2 separate regions of the Homo sapiens genome follow, and region 2 is linked to region 1. Evidence: fine-mapped expression QTL. Tissue or cell type: whole blood. Region 1 holds a variant in brackets; the other region holds the start of a gene. All regions are shown on one strand. Distances are from middle to middle.

The links. PIP is the estimated chance that this variant, and not a neighbour inherited with it, causes the effect.
Region 2: ABTB3 starts here. The variant in region 1 is fine-mapped to the expression of ABTB3 in whole blood (TOPMed, PIP above 0.99).

The regions. Positions count from the first base shown.
Region 1 is chr12:107,669,588-107,672,341 of GRCh38, reverse strand. No RefSeq gene overlaps it. Among named protein-coding and RNA genes, the nearest start is that of PWP1, 15 kb to the left of the region's middle. The variant C/T (reference allele first, on the strand shown) is at 1,167.
Region 2 is chr12:107,317,227-107,319,830 of GRCh38, reverse strand. ABTB3 (ankyrin repeat and BTB domain containing 3) reads right to left here and starts at 1,397. Exons shown (of 17, transcript NM_001018072.2): 1 at 1-1,397. The coding sequence starts at 890. RefSeq lists an enhancer at 176-895.

The DNA.
Region 1 (2,754 bases):
ATGACTTTCAGAAAATGCCTCAGAGAACATGGAGTTCTTAAAATGACTTATTACAGATGAATACAAAGACATCTTAAGGATCTTACCTGAGTCCTGACCATATATATAGATGATCTTTTTTTTTTTTTTTTTTTTGAGAGTCTCGCTGTGTCATCCAGGCTGGAGTGCAGTGGTACGATCATGGCTCACTGCAGCCTCGACCTCTCAGGCTCAAGCAATCCTCCCCACTTCTCCCACTTCAGCTTCCCAAGTAGCTGGGACTACAGGTGTGCACCACCACACCCAGCTAATTTTTTATTCTTTTGTAGAGATGGGGTCTTACTATGTTATCCAGGCTTGTCCCAAACTCCTGGGTTGAAGTGATGCTCCCGCCTTGGCCTCCCAAAGGGCTAGGATTACAAGCATGAGGCACCATGCCTGGCCTAGATTGTCTTTTTTTTCAGGCATCATTTCAAGTATCCTCTGAGAGAGAGGAACAGAAGAACCTGATACCATTGCAGTGACCTGGGAGAACAGAGCAGTCCTTCTCAGACCTCAGTGTGCTCAGCACTGGGCCTCTGGTTAAAATGCAGATTCCATGTAGTAGGTCTGGAATCGAGGCTGACATTCTGCATTGCCAACAAACTCCCAATGATGCAGAAGCGACTGTCCGGCTCCACTTTGGAAAGCCAGGAAGTAGAGTACTTATTTGGGAAAAAGCTACAAATGCTCACACAGTTGGAGAAGCAGTGATCCAGCAGAGAAGTTACTTGACTTGCCCAAAGTTGCAAACAACAGTGAGAGTGAGTGAGATCTGTGGCTGGCGCTCCTGGTTCCTGAGCCCGTGTTCAAGTCTAGATTACGCTGTTTCCCTCATTCCAAGTACAAGGAGTAGCTGCTGCACTGTGACCTCCCCATTGGACAATGAAAGGATTTTACGCCCCACTTCAAGCTGCATCCTACCCAAATCTACCTAATGAGCCATTACCCTTCTTTAAAACAACTGTGTGACCAGACCACTTAGGAGTGTGGAGTGTGACCACTTAGGACTCCACACAATGAGCCAGAACCGTCCAACTCAAGGCTGGTGTTTCTGAAGGCTTGCACTGGGAGGAGCGCCCCCTGCCGCTCAGCCCTGAGTCCACAACCCCACCTGCACGTTGCTCAATGTCCTGACCTCCTGCTGT[C/T]TCAACATCAGAGCTATTTACCGATTTCCTCTCTTTGCTAAAACAACAACCACCACAACAACAAACTTCTCATGAACTGGGGTTTCTCAATCTGCCCTCGTACTTTTGCTCCCCAAGAATTCAGTGCTGTATGTACAGTGGGAAATGGAAACAATAGAACCATGTTTCAGCTGAAACTGGCACAGTTAAAAAAAAACACCAACCACGAAAAAACTAGAATGCCTACATAAGCTTGGGGATTTTTTCGTGCTTTATGCTTAAGACGCTTTTGAAAGGTTGCAGCTAAAAGTAAAATTTGTTTTGATAGCATTCTCAGCAACAGAAAGCAAATGAATCTCTTGTCCTCCCCATGGAAGTAAAAAGAAGGAGCCCAGTTGCTGCTCTGGAGAAAGTGGCCATGGAATTTACCTTCTCTGTCCTTAGAATGAAAGGCCTCAAAGCAGCCTTCGTTTGCAGGCTTTGCAGGACTTTGCTGATGTAAAAAGCCTTAGAAGCCGTTGAGTCTTTGAAGTCTTTCTTGGCTCTAACAGGAGGCTAAAAGCCAAGTCTCTCGAATTCGGCTTGTTCCCTGGGCCTGGAAAGAGACTGAAATCCATCTTGGTGGCCACCCAACCACACCTGCTCCACCACACCCTGCGATAACAGAGTGAGACCCGGAGGCCAGGAGATGCCTTTTGGGGGTGTGTCCTTGGTAAGTGAGGCGCATCACTGAGTGACTGTTTGGGGTGAAATCAGCCTTTAGGGAACATTTCTCAGATACTTTTCTTGCTTTACCAAACAAGGCTGAGCATCCAGGTTGGTGGGACCTCGGCCCAATAAAAGCCAAAAATCCGAGTTAGTGTATTAGTACAGAGAAAAACAAAGTGAGTATAAAGAAAAAAGTATTTAAAAAATCTGAGTTAGGAAAGGTGCAGGCTCAGATAAAAGACACAAAATGGGCCAGTCACATCTCCTTCTGGACCCAGTGCCCAGCTGAGCTTGACCATGACAATCAGTAACCGTGGACCTGCCTGCCAGAGGCGCCCGGCTGTCCTGGGGTGGTGGGTCCTCAGTGGCCGTCCGTCCCCACTCCTGCCACCTCATGTCACGCCAAGAGTTGGCTTGGCAGCAACTAAGTCCCCCAAGCTGTGTCTGTGTGTCAAGGAGCACCTTGAGGGACCCTGTCTCCCACATCTCTGTGTCCGCTCTGTGTCCTCTCTGTGTCCTCAGTCCCATTAAACATTGGTCCATCTACATTGAATCCTCACGCCACCCAATACTTCTTTCTCCCCCAAACAATACTCACCAAAAAAAAGACATCCAGAACAAGTAGACCTGTCATCACACCACATCACAGATACACATGACTAACATTTGTCTTAGCCCAGAAAGCTCTTTCTTCCTCCTTCTCTCTTTTTTTTTTTTTGTCTTAGAGACAGGGTCTCACTATGTTGCCCAGGCTGGCCTCGAACTCCTGGGCTGAAGTGAATCTCTTGCTTCAGCCTCCCAATATCTCAGACTACAGGCATATGCCCCCACACCCAGCTGATCATATTTATTATTATTATTATTTTTTGAGACAGGGTCTCATTCTGTCACTCACCCTGGC
Region 2 (2,604 bases), 350 kb after region 1:
CTCGCCGCTCCTCCCCCGGGCGCCTCCCGCTCTTTATCCGCCGCGGGGGCCGCACCAGGGCCCGAGCTCGGGCCTGGGCCGGAGCCCGAGCCTGACCCAGGGCCACTGCAGCTCCGGGGCACCCCGGAGGCCACGACCCGCGAGTAGATGTCCCGGAAGAGGCTCTCCATGCAGGCTGTCAGGTAGATGGCGGCGTGCTCGTGGATGCGCAGCGCCACGCGGCTGTCCACCATCCAGCGATACACGCGGCCCACGGAGAAGGTGAGGCCGCAGCGGGCCGACTTGCCGCGGCCCAGGCGGTCGCCGCCGGCGCTGCTCATGTTGTAGAGGGACAGTGCGGCCAGCGCAGCCGCCGTACAGTGCGCGGCCAGGCCCCAGGACAGCACGATCTCCATGGCGCTCTGGATCTCGTACTTGGTGCACTTGGCGAAGCGCAGGCTCAGGCGCTGCGCCTCTTTGGCTATGCGCACCAGCGCCCGGCTCACCAGCGTCGACAGCTTGGCCAGCGCGTCCTTGGGCAGGCCGCCGGGGACCGCCGGGCCTGCCCGGGGATCCCGCGAACGCAGCAGCAGCGCCTCCAGCTCCTGGAGAGTCCAGGGGACCTCGTCTAGGTCCGGCAGCAGCCGCGAGCAGTGCTGGCCGGCGCAGTCCAGCCCCTCGGAGTCTTCCACCAGGGCAGTGTTGACAGTGTCAAAGCTGTTGTGCCGGCTGTGCATGGAGTCAGCTAGAGGCGGCCAGCAGCTCCCGCCATACGGGGACGCCGGGTGCGAGTCGGAACAGCACAAAGACAAGTTGGAGGAGCGCACCGAGTCCGCCGCGCCACCATAACCCGAGTCCAGCGTCAGATCCTCCAGCGTTCTCACCACGGGCTTCTTACCTCTCCTGGCCATCGCTGCGCCACTTCATGCTGCAGCCGCCTGGGAGCCAAAGGGAAGGAGCGGCGAGGAGCAGCGAGTGCCGCGGGGCGCGGGGAGAGCCGAGTCCGCGCCGCCTTGGCTCACTTTTCCACTAGCCGCTGCTACCAACTGTTAGTACTTTCGGCTGCCTCCCGGAACTGCCGCCGCTGGAATATACAGAGCAGACCCTGGAGTCATCTTCCAGAGTCCGGGCCGGAGCTGGGCGCAATGGGGAGCGAGCCAGGCCGGGAAGGAAGCTCCCGCCGGGGCTTGCCCCTTTCTTCCAAAATAAAAAGTGTCTAGACCGCTCTTCCCTGAGCCCCGCTGGGCGCAGTAGCCACCGGGCGCCGGCCACGGTGTTCGTGGGACTGAGACCACCCCAGATGCCGCCGCCGCCGCAGCTCCGCGGGCAGCTGGCTCCCGGCTCCCGGCTCCCAGTTCCCGGCCCTGGTTCGCTCGGCGCCAGCCTGCCCTGCACCGGAGCGCAGCAGCGGCCGTGGCGGCTGCAAACCTTGCCGAACCCCAGCAAACCCCGGGCAGCCAGTGGGACGGGCGTATGCAAAGCAGGGGCGGCGGAGAGCCAGTGGAATCGGAGAATGCTAATTACCTCGCTTTTTTTTTTTTTTTTTAAATCCCTCCTCCCCATGCGGCCCCGCCCCTCACACACGCCCCCGGCGGACACCGAGGCTGCAGGAAGTGGGGAGCAGTGGCCAGGGACTTGGGGAACCCTTGCAAGCGTAGAGACGTGGATGCTGCCCCCTGCTGCTGTCCCTGCCCGCATTCTCCCGGAGGGTGGTGGGTTGGGCCGGTGACCTCCCCACCTAGGTGTGCTCTCCACCGCGGTTCACAAGGTGTCTGCCTGACGGTCGCTCTCTCCCCTGCGGTTCGCATTTCACTTTTTTCCCCCCGTAACACCTGAAACATGGTTTTCCTCCCTCTCTATTCCCACTTCGGGTACGCAAACCAATTAGTGCGGCCCTCTTTCAGCCGGGGTTTGCTCCAGCATGGAGGGAAATAAGCCTGTCGAGCGGAGGCCCGTGGCGGTGGACACCACTGGGAGGCCGGATCTCCGGCCATTCGCCACCTGCCACTAGGGCGCGTTAACTCGATTCCTTTCAGTAGCCAGGAGGACCCTGTCCCTGCTTCAAAGTCCTGGGCGTGTGCTGCAGGGAGGGCTCAAGCACCACTTTGCCATCCTGGTGGGCATCTTTCCAAATAGCTCGGCCTTCTTAAAAGGAGTAAATTTGCTCAAAGGAGAATCTTCTTTCCTGACTAAAGAAAGATATAATATATATATGCATGGCTTAGCTGCATTCCTGTGTCAAATAGCATCGTGTCATCTACTTGTCTGTCCCCACCCACCCAGGCAGAAACCATATCTTACACACATGGGGATTCCTAGCTCCGCACACTGTGTCTCTCAGCTTAGAATCCCCTCCTATAGGAAGCTGGCCCAGATGTTTCAAGACTGGCTTCGGTGCTTCCACTGCCTCTATCCCCTTCTGTGGTTGCTGATTTCTGGGCCCTTGCAACACTAGGTTGCAAAAGCCTGGTTACTTGTCTGGATTCTACACTGGGCTAGGGGTTCCCATGCATAGTCCTGGCACAGTATAAGTGCTCAGTAAATATTTGTTGTAAATTGATGAAGGACGTAAGGATATGCTTTTAAATTGTTGCTTTGAATGTTCAACAATGGCCAACAGGTATA